Linked DNA regions of Homo sapiens. The protein of the gene in region 1 interacts with the protein of each later gene in a pairwise test. Each region holds a gene or a part of one and is shown in the gene's direction. Other genes may lie near its edges.

Region 1 (3,500 bases):
TTGGAATCGTCCAGCTTCATCAGAATATGACCACAATTACCTTTTTTTTTTTTTTTTTTTGGTGCTTCTGTGTATATTCCTGGGTAATAGAGGATTATTGGTCATTAGCTATGTGGTACTTAAAGTTTTGATCTTTGATTATCTGTGCTGAGAGATAACAAACAAAAAAAAATCTGAGTTACGTGAACATCTTTTTTTTTTTTTTTTTTTTAGTGAACCTTGTTCATGTATATTTTGACCAGGGCTGTTTATAGGTAGCAAAAGTGATGTAAAGCTAGGCACAATTTGATAAACAATGACGGTCAGGGAGTAAAAATAGAAATAGTTACTGAATATTTCATGAGCATATATTGGAGCATTGTTTGTATTTTTGCCTCAGTTTATTTAAATATGTCTAAGTCAAGATGTTTTATTGATATGTTTGTTTAAAAAAGGCTTTTAGTAGAGCTTGAGAGAAAAGATGACCAGTCAGTCCCAATCTTAAAACCAGTTCTTTAGAATATTAAACTAATTTATGTTCAAACTTAATAACTTAGTACTACTTGGAGACAAATACAAAGCTGGAGGTCAACATCATGTAGGAAAAATTTTAATCCCCCAACGAAAAATATGGGTGGTTTTGTCTTTTTATTTTTATATTAGAAACTATTTACCTAAGAGTTTGTTTTTATTGTTTAACCTTATTTGTTCTTTAATTTTAATAAACTGAGACATGAAAGAGAATGCTGAAATGCCAAACTGGGTTAAGACTTCAGTAGTTTATAAACAATAACAGATACCTAGCTAAAGTTACCTTTATTTCATTGAGCCTAGAAAGTTATTTTTACTGTGACATTTTTAAGATCATGTTATACTTCCAGTAAATTATAATTACCTGTATGGTTCTTTAATCTTTTAGAAAGATACTTAGATAAAACGTCAAGGGCTTTTTTATAAGTATTAGGAATGCTTGCTTTTGGATGTAGAAATAGAGAAAGCAGAAGATACAGGAATGGAATAGTTTCATGGTATGGTCTTTCTGTGAATATTTTTGGGTGAAATCTTTTCTTTGGAGATTATACTATACATTATTAGATGGCCTAAAAAAATACTTGAGTGAAATGCAGTCATCAAATGTTTTTCTATTGGTTATTTCCATCCTAAATTAAAGTGAGTTGATATTGCCACGAAAAGGGATACTTCTTTTCTTGTCAAGCTAGTAGTATGGTATATGTGAAGAAAAACAGTTTTTTCATTTCAGGTCATTTATTCAATGTAATTTTGACTACTGTACATTAAGCCTAGCTCATCTTATAAAAACAGAGGTAACATTTCAATTTTCAATAACATTTTAATTTCTTTGCGTGCATTCTTGGATGAATGTTTATTTGATAGTACAAAATCTTATTCTGTGTGGGCTGAGTATGTATGTTTTAATTTAGAACTAAGCTGTTAGGAAGACATTGAGTGAGTTTCTTTTGTTTTACGAGCCATTTTGATTAGGTTTTCTTTTATGTTTACTTAAACAAATTAGAATTTTATTTGAGTGCCATGTCTAATGCCTAAGTAGGTTTCTCTGGAAAATTAAGACAATATTAAGAAAGCTATAATAATTTTACTTTAAAGACATTTTTAAACTTGTAGGTTTTAATCATTTTGGTATTCATAGCCAGTAATTGTGTCCAAAAGTAGCAATAAATAACTTATAATATTATGGAAGTAATTTCTCCTAAAATTGAGCATAGTGTTGCATATCACTCATTAAACTTTTAAAAAAACTAACCATTGATAAATATATGATGTACTGAATGTTAGGTGCTACTGCTTTATCTTCTGGGTAATGTCAGAAGACTAATTTCTTTTAAGGTTAGTTAAATCCCTAATGTGCACTGTAATTTCCTAGAAACTTTTTACTTGTTTGTATTGTTATTTATCATTCTAATAGGATAGGGGCACTACTTTTATCTTAAACTTTACAATTTAGAGTACCTTCACATACATTATTCATTCATGAAGTAGTCAGAGTTACTACTCCCATTGTCACACACATAATAAAACAGCAGAAACATGCCTTTGGAACTTACAGTTTGCAAAGACAGCAGGATGAGAAACCCCAGGAACATAAACTATATTTAGAATATTCAGAGTGGAGGAAAAGATAGGAGTCTGAAGTAGGAAAGTGATTCGTGTTGGTGGCTATAGTTTTTCATTGTCATTTCTTTCTCAGATGAAGAAAGGTGGTTATTGATCAAATTGTATGTAAAGGAGGTTACAGGGTTATCGGGGTGGATTTTGTTCACATGGGAAGTGGAAAGATAGGAATGCCAATAAAAGACATGTCAGCCCTTTGACTATTCCTAATCCTGTGTTCTGGAAAGTTCTCACTGCAAGAAGGGAGACCTAAAGAATTTCAGTTGTTTCTGCTTCCATTGTGAAGTGAAATATATATAACTCTTAAATTATTCCTCTCCTGGACAAATGTTGGTTGGTGTTAAAAATGGCAGGTTACCAGAAAGAATTTATCTCTTAATTATATTTTGGTATTGACACTTGCATCTCTGTAGGTGGTAAGAGGAGAGGATTGTAGTGGGGAAGTCATAGGAACTGAAATGTGGTCTTGACCTTAATGACTTTGGAGCTCAGTCTTCACGTCTTTAAATTAGGTTACCTGGAAAAGGCAACCTCTAAATTCCATTTCTAAATTTCTTTGAATTTTGTACTGTTCTGGGATTTATAATATTCTGGAAAACAAGGAACTCACAATGCCAAGCAGAGATGATGCGGGAAATATGGAAAGCTAGCTTTTCTATCCTTCTTAACTATTTTATCCTCCCTCTTTAAGCTTTGGATAGACAATCACAGATAAGTATGATGTATGTAGTGCCAGGGTTGTGTGTACTTTCTTTTGCTGCTTTTTGTGCTTACGTTTCCTTGTAAAATGTTTGTATACATATCTTCATGTAAACAGATAGTACTGCTAATGTAAACAAAGGACCTGATCAGCGTAAGAGTTGTATAGGTTTGAGTTAATCAGTTTATTTTATACACTTTGAAATTGGTTCTTTAATACAAGTTTGCAGCTAGATTAAAAAAATATGTAATATAGAGAATGTATTTTCCTTCACATCCATTTGGCCAAAAAACAGTAAAATATGAAAAATCTTACTTTGTTTTTTTTTTTTTTTTTGAGGGGGGTTTCACTGTGTCACCCAGGCTGGAGTGCAGTGGCTCTATCACAACACACTGCAGCCTTGACCTCCTGGGCTTAAGCGATCCTCCCACCTCAGCCTTACGAGTAGCTGGGACCACAAGTGTGTACCACCATGCCTGGCTAATTTGATTGATTGATTGATTGAGAGAGACAGGGTCTTCCTATGTTGCCCAGCCTGATCTTGAACTCCTAGGCTCACGCAATCCTCCTGCCTTGGTCCCCGAAAATGGGGGATTATAGGCATGAGCCATGGTGCCTGGCCAAAAATCTTTATCTTTAAAGATATTTAATACTTTTTTTCTGAATAATT
Region 2 (4,122 bases), on another chromosome or scaffold:
TGGACAAAACAACAGGTTGGATGAAGTGCAGAAGTTGTGCTAAAAAGAAGAGGACAAATAAAGTACGTGTAACAGGCCAGTGATGTCTTCATGTCAATTATCTCCAGGAACTTCTTTCTAATATCATACTGTAACTCCTTTTACTTTGGTTGCAACCTCTGTTTTTGCAATTCTGTCTTTGCCTGACCTGCTCTTCTAGTCAGGAGCCTTGGATTCTTGTCTTGTTTGGCTGTGCTACTTTAAGCAGAAGTCTTTCAATCTCTGGGCTTCAGTGTTCAAGTCTGTAATGGTGGGCAATTAAGAATCCTTGTTGTGTCCATCTCATAGAGTTACTGTGAGGATTATAAGGGATAATAACAGATGTTAGTGTGACTGACAAAGTCAATTTTTAGCCTAAGCAAAGGTACCAGCCTGTGTTGTGTTCCCCAGAGTTGGGGGAATCATAAAGAGGTGGGTGGTTTCTCCGTTTGCCTGTTTCGCTGATGTGCATTCAACTCATTCTCAGCAAAATAAGCAAATGGAAAATTCGTCCATCAACAAGCTACCTTTCATGTTCCTAAGGGCATGAAGGAGAAGCCTGGAGTGGTGTGTGTGAGATAGAAAGGGAGAGATAGCCGAAAGAGGCTTGGAAAGCCGCAGAGGGTAAAGTCGAGGATTTATCTTTTTTTTTTCTTTAATGTGACCTTATGCCCCTTCCCTCTTCCAAACCTCCATTTATTTATCTATAACTTGGAGATACTAATGGCTGCCTCTACAGGGTTGTTCTGAGAAGTGAAAGTAATGCAGATGAAAGCTCTCAGATAGTACACAAAGAGAGAAGACCCTAGGGGAGTATGCAGAGGGAGGGTGGGGGAGGGAGGCATGAGAGTGCTGGCTTGGCTCCACTGGGGCAGGATCTTATTATTCTGGAGATTGGCACAACACCTCTGGTAACTTTGGAAAGGACTTTCCGCTGACTCGACACAATTGGGAAGCCCCACAATAAACAGCATCTAACTCCAGCGCAGCGGGAGGCAGGCAGAGGTAGCAGCTGCCTTCTCCTGGGCGGGCGGAGGCTATTCGCCCCCATCCTCTCCCTGCACCCCACCCCCACAGTTCTCAAGCCTTGGTGGGGGACAAAAGCAGCCCATTAGGACCCCCCCACACTCGCACCTCTCCCTGCCAAGACCTCTAGGAGCAGCAGGGCGGAGAGACAGAGCCTGCCGGTTGGCATGGAACAAACTGACTGAAGGCGAGGTCCGGGGCGGAGGGGATTGGGTTGTAGGGCTGTGGAGGAGGGGCGGCGGAGGGGGCGCTGGGGCTCTCGCTTGCTTCAGCCCAGCCCTTCTAGTCAGCCCGCGACAACTCGCGCCAGCTACGGGGCCTCAGAGAAGCCGGACTTCGCAAGCACCATGCAGTGGATAAGGGGCGGATCGGGAATGGTGAGTGCATGTAACCTTGGCTTCCCTTGCTTGAGCCTCTCAGTCCCCCAGCCCCACCTCCAGTTCCTCCAACGAGCCACAAGGCAGTGAGCACCCTGGCCTCTGCCCACCGCCCTAGCCGCCGTCCTTGAGACACCAGTGAGCTTGCTGTGGCCATTTTAGGAGTCCCTGCTAGCCTGCCTGCCCAGGAAACCCCCCTACCATCCCCCTCCACTTTTCTATCTCCCTCTGAGATTAAGGTGGAATAGGGGTGGGGGCCAGATTATGTGCCCAGGAACATCCCAGGGGTCACTTGGGAGGCCAGAGAGGGAAGGGGGATGGCAGAGGGCTTCTCTGGAAGCAGTGAAGCTCGCAGGAGGCTGACAAGCTGGCACGGGGTTGTGGGGGGAGGGGACGGTCACAAAGCCTGGAATTGTGGAGGGGGCCTTATGGGAGAGCTGCATGACTCCCCCCTGCCCCCAACTAGATTTTCTGCAACTCCTTTCCCTGGTCAGCCCCAGAGCATGAGGGCCAGAGAGCCACTCTCTCTCTCTCAGGAAGCTGCCTGAGGGAGCCCTAAAGCCCTTCCTTGTCCGGGCTGGGGTCACCCTGTCCACACTTGGGGCTTTGTCAAGGAGAGACAGCTGCAGAAACCCACATTCTGGAAATGGGCTTGGGCCACAGTCAGTTAACAGAGCTCTTCTCTCCCTCCCAAGGAGTGTGTGCTTGTGTGTGTGTTTAGTATAATCCTCCAACAGTTCATTTTATGCCATGGTGTTCCCTTCTCCACCTGGAGACCTTGGAATGACTTCCTTTTGCAGAGAGGAAGTGGTGGCTGCATTTTGATGCCTCTCTGACTTAGCCAGGAGCAGCTTAAGCCTGGTTAGGGCCTCTGGGGAGTGGGAGGCCCCCATGACTTTGTCCTCAGCTGGGAGGCATAAGCAAAAGGGCCTTAGAAGGCAGTTAGGTTGGGTCAGCAGGCACTGATGGCAATAGCCCACACTTCTACGCTGCCACCCATAACCCGCAGATGAAGGAAAGTAGCCTGAAGTGGTTGGGCAAAAACTGATATTTAACTCCATTTTTGCTTTCATTGTGGAGGGGAAGAGGGAATCTGGTGTGGGCTAGGACTATATTCAGAGGGGCTGTCCTCTTCCCTTCCTCAGAGTTTTGTTAGATCTCTGTTTCAGTGGTTCTTAAGGGCATCCGGTTCATATGCCTATGTGCTGGGGCTTCAAAAGACCCTTCTTCCCAGACCTCCCTACTTCCCTGAGGTCCCATTAAAGCTGCATCAAATGTTTGTAGAACCAGAAAAGATTAGAGCAGGTAAAGACCTTAGAGTCCTTGCTGTCCAGCCAGGAAAGCTGGGATCCAGAGAGTGGGAGAGACTTGCCCAGGACCACAAACTCCTTGGAGGCAAAGCTGAGTCTAGCACTTGAGTCTCCTGACTGCCACAGTCCTTCCCCACTGCTCCACCAATCATTTGCTCAAATGGTGCTGAGAGGGGAAGAAAGGAACATAGTCATGATCTTGGGAAAGGACTTTCTTCAGGATGATCTAGTGCCATTAAATTTACCTGAAAGCCGGGCGCGGCCGCCCACGCCTGTAATCCCAGCACTTTGGGAGGCCGAGGCGGGTGGATCATCTGAGGTCGGGAGCTCAAGAACAGCCTGACCAACGTGGAGAAACCCCGTCTCTACTAAAAAGACAAAATTAGCTGGACGTAGTGGCACATGCCTGAGGCTGAGGCAGGAGAATCACTCGAACCCAGGAGGGGGAGGTTGCGGTGAGCCGAGATTGTGCCGTTGCAGTCCAGCCTGAGCAACAAGAGCGAAACTCCATCTCAAAAAAAAAAAAAAAAAATTACCCGAAAAAAATCCATGCCAGTCCTGGCATTTCTGGCAACTGGGAACTGGGTCAGGGTGAGACTTACTTCCTCTCCCAAATATATTGAAGTATAGGGGCCCAGAGCCACTCATTGACAACAGGTTAAATTAATGAAGAAATTTGAAGTTTTGCCAACAGTGTATGAGAGAGAAAAGGGTGGCAGACATCTTGTGGAGACTGTGTAATTAAGGATTGGTTGATGGGGAAAAATCTCATAATATTCTTAGAGGACTGAGACAATGAATATTATATGATGAAAGCATTTATTTAGCTGTTTACCAGAATTCAAGAGATGGGAGTAGTAAACTCTATTCTTGCCTGAGAGGCAGGGAACCTCTAAGTTTTGGCCTTGCCACTAACAGAAATCCTTTGGGCCTCAGATTTCTTACCTATTAAATGCGGATGTTAATAAGCACCAAAATTCCTTCTAGGCCTTAGATTCTCAGATTCCTAGAAGTATGTGTTGGATAAAATTTAACTAGTGGCTCATTACGAACAAATAGGGATTGTGTATCTAGCCACCATTTTATAACGTGGCTAGCTGAAAGATCTTTGCTCCTTGTTCTTTCGTTTGCAAGGTGCCCGAAGTACAAACTGAGCTTTTTATAACAGTGAGATTTCTTTTTAGTACATTTGACTGTAGTAACTTATTTCAAGTGTTACATGTAAATCGTGGGCCTTGAACATAAAACATTGTTCAAGATTTTACAGAATAAAATCTGTCTCATAGATACAGGATGCTAAACTGTGAGTTCACACTGGACGGTAAATTGTTATTTATTCTTGGCTTCTTTCTGCAATGCCAGTTTGTGCTGGGTTAGCCAGTATGCCTAAA
Region 3 (3,500 bases), on another chromosome or scaffold:
ACCATGGCTTACAAAACAAATCCAGCCCACTACCTCTTTTAGTAAGTGAAGTTTTTTTGGAACACATCCACACTCATTCATGTAATATCTGTGGCAGTTTTCATAGTACAATGGCAGAGTGGAACAATTGCAGCAAAACCATATGACCCAGAAGCCTAACTTATTTACTATCTGATCTTTTACAGGAAAAGGTTGCTGACTCCTGCTTCAAGTATTAGTTTGAGCATCACTTACACTAGTTTAGGCAAACCCACTCTGTGCTTTTATCATAAAAAATGTTTTTTTACACATATAATTTCCACACTTGACTAAAAGCTCTTTGAAAGCAGAGGCCATGTTGGTCTTGCTCACTTTTCTTTCCAGCTCTTATTTCCTGGCATATATTAGGCATTTATAAATATTTGGATGAATGAATAGAAGTACCTTTATTAAGCATTTGACTAGATGAAAATTCCCAAACCATTAATTTAATGTCTTTTAATGGTTTATTTTTTCTTAAATATAAATTTTGTGTTTTAGAGGTAAGCAAGAAATTGAAAATTTGAAAGAAGAAGTGGAAAGTCTTAATTCTTTGATTAATGACCTACAAAAAGACATCGAAGGCAGTAGGAAAAGAGAATCTGAGCTGCTGCTGTTTACAGAAAGGCTCACTAGTAAGAATGCACAGCTTCAGTCTGAATCCAATTCTTTGCAGTCACAATTTGATAAAGTTTCCTGTAGTGAAAGTCAGTTACAAAGCCAGTGTGAACAAATGAAACAGACAAATATTAATTTGGTAAGTATAAATTTACATTTTTTTTAAAACAACGTAACAAGCACAAATTAAATTTCCCTAACAGTATAAAAGTAATAGTAGTTGAATTAAGTTCTTTCCTGGACACTGACTTTCTGACAATTTCAACTGCTGTAAGAAATGTCAGTTTTTCCTCAACTGTTATAATTTATAATAAAATTTCTTCCTAAAATGATTATGAATAATATTTTACTTTTGAAAATGAGAAAACTGGTTTGTGTCCTTCCTGACTAGAATCACTGTATATTTTTAAAAGGTACTTTAAATTTCTATTTTTATAATTTATGAGAGTGTCTTCAAGTTACTCATAAAAATGATTTGAGACTTTAGTCCAAAAATTCAACAACCTGTATCACATGTTGCTTGGTATGTATAGAATGACATTCTCCTTAATGTATCCCCCTGCTTTTCTATATGAGAACTGTGAGAAGCTCAAGTAAACAAAAGCTGATAAGGAATAATAATAGAAGAATCTCCACTGTCAAGAACCTTAGATTGTTAAGGTTATATAAACTGAGCATTAATGGAAACAAACATACTAAAATTGGTGGTTTTTGTTTTACTTACTATTCAGGAAAGTAGGTTGTTGAAAGAGGAAGAACTGCGAAAAGAGGAAGTCCAAACTCTGCAAGCTGAACTCGCTTGTAGACAAACAGAAGTTAAAGCATTGAGTACCCAGGTAGAAGAATTAAAAGATGAGTTAGTAACTCAGAGACGTAAACATGCCTCTAGTATCAAGGATCTCACCAAACAACTTCAGCAAGGTATAAAATTCTTCCACACTTAGACCATGAATGTGTTTGTTTCTTTTAATCATTAGGATTTTATTTTTTGTGATTCTGCCACATTGATTGAAGCTGTATGTTTTCTTTGTTAATATTAGTAAACCAAATTGTTAAACTTCTTGGAATTTCATGACCGATCTTTTATCCTAAAGGATATCTTGTATGCTAAAGGACATTTACTCACAGAATCACAAAACATGAGAATTGGGAAAGCAATGTTAGGGCATTAGTATCTAAACTTTTGATCACATACTCCTGTCAATAAAAAGTGCTTAGGCATTTGTTATCCAATTTAGATATGTTTATTTATACATTTTAAACATGTGTTAGTCTTTTATATATATTAGAACATATGAAAAATAGAAATTTAAAATAATCTATTTTTAAATATCAGTATAAATAGCAGTTCTGATATCTTCTTTTACATTCCTGTGATTTCTTTTGTGCTGCATCTAGGCTACCGGCATCTAGGGTGCAGATACCCGAGATGCGTCCTCTGACTTGGAAATCGTTGCGACTTAACTCTTCACCTGGGTTTCAAGAAACAGACCCCAGAAAGTTATAAATTACCCAGACATAACAATTGACTGCTGAACTGGATTCCAGATTTCTTTCTTTTAAAAAGTCATACAGTCATTGGGTGTCTGTGCTATATGCTTGGGATACAAAAATAAATAAGACACGTATTTCAACCTCCTATTCTCTACTATTTCTCACGGCTTTATTTGTGTTAAAATAGGGTGAAATATAGTAATAAGCTAAAAGGGACTTAGCATTTACTTAATACAAATATATTCAGATATTTGCCATAGAGTTTAGTTTGTTTTTATAGATGTAATTGAAGGGAAATTTGGAAGAAATTTCTGGTACTGTAAGGAACTTCTAAATCTTTCAATACTTTAAAAAGTTAACTCCACTGTAATTAAGTGATGCCAGTGTCAGTTATAATGTTGTTTCTGTATATTTTGTACTTGACTTTTACATTTCCAAATGACATTTTATATGAATGACATAGCCCTCTGCCTAAAGTATGTATTCAAGAACTTTCTCTTGTCTATGCCATTTTTGCCTCAGTGATTTTAGCAATTAAAGTCAGAGATGGTAGGAGCAAATGGTCCTGATAATTGTGACGAATAATCTTCTTTTTCCTATAGCACGAAGAAAATTAGATCAGGTTGAGAGTGGAAGCTATGACAAAGAAGTCAGCAGCATGGGAAGTCGTTCTAGTTCATCAGGTAAAAAACTAGTGGCTCTAGTTGTTATTTCATGATTGATATAAAAATAAATAGCATTTTTGGCCAGGTGTGATGGCTCACACCTGTAATCCCAGCACTTTGGGAGGACGAGATGAGTGGATCACCTGAGGTCAGAAGTTCAAGACCAGTCTGGCCAACATGGAGAAACCCCGTCTCTACTAAAAATACAAAAATCAGCTGAGTGTGGTAGCTCACGCCTGCAATCCCAGCTACTCGGGAGGCTGAGGCACGAGAATCACTTGGAGGTGGAAGTTGCAGTGAGCTGAGATCGCATCACTGCACTCCAGCCTGGGCAACAGAGCAAGACTCTGTCTCAAAAAATAAATAAATAAATAGCATTTTTTATTTTAAAAAGTATTGATATGCTTTGTTTCATTTTGAAGTATGAAAAATTGTGGTTATATATAATTATATTGTAAAAAATGTTTCTGGTTAAATATTTAAGTTCTACTCATGACCTGGGGTTTCAGATTTGTCATGGGGTTCTATGTGATGATCTGTCTCCCTACCTTCTTTTTTATTCGTTGTGTTTTCTTTTTCTTTCTTTTTTTTTTTGAGACAGGTCTTAACTCAGTCACCCAGGCTGGAGTGCAGTGGTGTGACTTTGGCTCCCTGCAGCCTCAATCACAATCTTCCCACCTCAGCCTCTCAAGTAACCGGAACTAT
Region 4 (3,353 bases), about 100 Mb from region 1:
ACAGCAAAAGGAGGCAGAGGCCCGAAGTGTTAGGGCAGGGGCAGGGAGGGACCAAGGGTAAGAGCCACAGAGGCGAGACAGCTCACTCTCTGAGCAGGAAGTGGGAAAGAGTCTGTGTGTGTGTGTGTGTGAGAGAGACGGGGGTAGGGGGGTGAGAGAGGCGGCCAGCGGCAGAGCAAAGGTGACAGCCCCACACCTCTTCTCCTCTAAACATCAGAATTTTAATTCAATAGACATGGATAATTCTTTTTACATTTGAGTTTCAAAACAGTACTTTGAATGTAGCAGGCATTCCATAAATGCCATCTGAGCAGACAGAGGGATTTGCGGCCAGTTGAATCCTAAGTGTTTGCTGAGGTCTGATACTCTGCAATTGCCTGTTTTAAGTTCAGCATCTTTAAGGTTCAGAGACATTCTTTTATGCAGTAGGCCAGAGAACTAAGAGCCGGAAAGGGCCTCTGAGATGCCCCGATCTCCCCACCTCGGGGAGGGGAGGGGTCTTTCCAGAGCCCCCACAGCCCTGCCTTCTGCATGGCCCCCACAGCCTAGACAGGGCCCCCACCAGACAGGTCCGCCTGCCCCATAGGCCTCACCACTCGGCCTCAGTCTAATGAGTTCTTCACCTGCTTCCTCGGCTTATTCTTGTAGGAGACGGGACTTCTAAAAGCAGTGAATTAAAGAAAAGATGTGAAGAGCTGGAAGCCCAACTGAAAGTGAAAGAGAACGAAAATGCTGAGTTGTTGAAAGAACTGGAGCAGAAAAACGCGATGATCACAGTGCTGGAGAACACCATCAAGGAGCGAGAGAAGAAGTACCTGGAGGAGCTGAAGGCCAAGAGTCACAAGCTGACCCTGCTGTCTAGCGAGCTGGAGCAGCGGGCCAGCACCATCGCCTACCTGACCTCCCAGCTGCACGCCGCCAAGAAGAAGCTCATGAGCTCCAGCGGGACCTCAGATGCCAGCCCGTCAGGGAGCCCCGTGCTGGCCAGCTACAAGCCAGCGCCCCCCAAAGACAAGCTACCCGAAACGCCTCGCCGCCGCATGAAAAAGAGCCTCTCAGCCCCCTTGCACCCGGAATTTGAAGAGGTCTACAGATTCGGGGCAGAGAGCAGGAAACTCCTTTTGCGGGAACCAGTGGATGCTATGCCCGACCCCACCCCATTTCTGCTGGCTAGGGAGTCCGCCGAGGTCCACCTCATCAAAGAGAGGCCCCTCGTCATCCCCCCCATCGCCTCCGACCGAAGCGGCGAGCAGCACAGCCCGGCCCGCGAAAAGCCGCACAAGGCCCACGTCGGGGTGGCACATCGGATCCACCACGCCACCCCGCCGCAGGCCCAGCCCGAGGTGAAGACCCTGGCGGTCGACCAGGTGAACGGAGGCAAGGTGGTGAGGAAGCACTCAGGGACGGACAGAACTGTGTGAAGCCCGCCGTGCCCCACCCCGCGCTGTCCATGCACTGTGAGCACCACTGGGAAATCTCAGCCACACCTTTTCTGTTTAATCCCATGCATGCCAAACACTTTTCACACCTACCGACCCATTCTCCTTCTGCTTCTCTTGCCCTCTTCTTCACACCAAAATATGATCGTGTCCCTGCCGCAGAATATGTATTTCCTAATTGCTGTGGCCAAACGCCTGTGTGCCGAATCGCTTGCTTCTGATCCCGCTCCGTGTAACCTAAGTGCGCTGCAGGCAAAGCCCAGGCCACGGCTGCGTCACTACTGATGTTCACGATGCCACACAGTCACACACCTAATTCATTCTCAAGTCGGAGCAACACATACCAACCTTGACCTTATCCTCAAGCTCCAGGGCAGCCTGGCCGAGCAGCCCCTGCTCCCTCCTGGAGACCCTTGTCACCTCCCGAGCTCCTCCTGGAGACCCCTGTCACCTCCTGACCAACCTTTCCCAGGGCGGCACCGATCACCGAGCAGCCGTGCGTGTATCTCAAGGAACTAAATAAGATGACGCTACTCCTCATAGCACCACAACCTGAATGTGTGTTCATATTTTTTTGTTAGTTTTATCCAAAATGTTTAAGATCCCAACAAACTTTATTTTCTAAACCTGCCTTCCTTCTGTTTTGTGTCTTTTATTAAACAAACACCTGAAGGAGGGCTAGGAGACTGCAGGAGGGAGAGCAATCACAGGTCCCAGAAGCGACTCCGGCCTCCTCCCGGCCCAGAGCTAGTCCTTAGAATGTGCTGCGCTCCTGAGCTTCTGTGGGAAGCTGCTTTTGCCTCTGATGGCCCCTGCCCACTGTGCTGCCCGTGCTAGCCCCTCTCCTCCCTCATGGAGTGAAGCCACCCCTCACCTCCAGGTGGCCAGCCAGGGCTCCAGGCCAGCCTCATGGTGCACAGAGGGAAGGGGTGCCCAGTGACCACTGGTCCTGGAGGTTCTGTGTCCTTACCTGACCCCACACAGACCCAGGCAGGCTGGGGGTAGAAGCTCATGCAGGAACTAAACACTAAGCTCAACAACTTCACAGTCGCCGTAGCAGGTCAGAGCCAAAGAAGCTAGGGCCAGAGAGTTCTGGAAGGGGGAGAAGTGGCTCCAGGTGACTGGTCACTTCTGCTCTGTGCCCGACATCATCAGCCCTTCTTGCCAAAAAGGAGCATCTGCTGAAACAGACCTGGATCATCGAAAACACACCTTTGGAAATTACATTAGGATTCTCACTTGTGCCAATGCTATGTATGCCAGGCACTTTTGCCTAATCAAGTGTTTTCTCTGAGAAGGAAAAGAAAACTCCACACATCTTAAAATACTCTCCAATATTTACTTTTTGATTATATAAATTCCTTTTAAAAAGTAGTATTAAAAACAAAACCATTCAGGTTAATTTGTATGGAAAGAGATTTAAGTGGCTGATTTCAAATGAAAAATCAGTGTCAGTCCCCCTCCTGCCTCTTGAGAGGCCCCAAGAAATGACAGCAGACCCGATCACTCTGACAACCCCAGGCTCCGAATTCATTAAGCAGTTTTCTTCACCCAAAGGTTAATCAGAATTCAGGGTGAGGCATACTCCTTGCAGCACCCAGTGAGAAATGTGCCTCGTGGTAAAGAGATCAGCTTCAAAAACCAAGCCGACTCCCATGGCGTTCCTTCTCATGGAGGTGGTGTAGACGGGGGTCCGGAAAGTATTCTGCAAGGGAAAGGCAGGTGAGATGCCCCCACGGAGAGAGGGTGCAGAGGGATAAAGGCAGAGGTGCAGTGTAAGTCTTGACAGGCAGGGGCCCCTGTGCAAGACTGCACCTGAGAACACGCACAAGGCTGGGGCTGCTCAGGGCCACCCTCCGCCAGCTTCACGGGGACCTGGCTTCACACTGACACCCTGGTTAAAAGTGGGTCCTG

What was found.
Region 2: the proteins of PLEKHA5 (region 1) and ARHGEF9 interact in a two-hybrid assay, tested with the Homo sapiens proteins (one large-scale study listed by BioGRID and IntAct).
Region 3: the proteins of PLEKHA5 (region 1) and CCDC186 interact in a two-hybrid assay, tested with the Homo sapiens proteins (one large-scale study listed by BioGRID and IntAct).
Region 4: the proteins of PLEKHA5 (region 1) and CCDC92 interact in a two-hybrid assay, tested with the Homo sapiens proteins (one large-scale study listed by BioGRID and IntAct).

The regions. Positions count from the first base shown.
Region 1 is NC_000012.12:19,132,733-19,136,232, forward strand, and holds part of PLEKHA5 (pleckstrin homology domain-containing family A member 5), read left to right. Parts: intron 1-3,500.
Region 2 is NC_000023.11:63,782,415-63,786,536, reverse strand, and holds the start of ARHGEF9 (rho guanine nucleotide exchange factor 9), read left to right. Parts: upstream 1-1,322; 5' UTR 1,323-1,391; coding exon 1,392-1,421; intron 1,422-4,122. UniProt on the Homo sapiens protein: Acts as a guanine nucleotide exchange factor (GEF) for CDC42. Promotes formation of GPHN clusters.
Region 3 is NC_000010.11:114,129,204-114,132,703, reverse strand, and holds part of CCDC186 (coiled-coil domain-containing protein 186), read left to right. Parts: intron 1-185; coding exon of another isoform or gene 186-312; exon of another isoform or gene 313-519; coding exon 520-775; intron 776-1,367; coding exon 1,368-1,557; intron 1,558-2,034; exon of another isoform or gene 2,035-2,732; coding exon 2,733-2,813; intron 2,814-3,500.
Region 4 is NC_000012.12:123,935,126-123,938,478, reverse strand, and holds the end of CCDC92 (coiled-coil domain-containing protein 92), read left to right. Parts: intron 1-648; coding exon 649-1,421; 3' UTR 1,422-2,853; downstream 2,854-3,353. Other genes in the region: DNAH10 (dynein axonemal heavy chain 10), read right to left, coding at 2,998-3,144.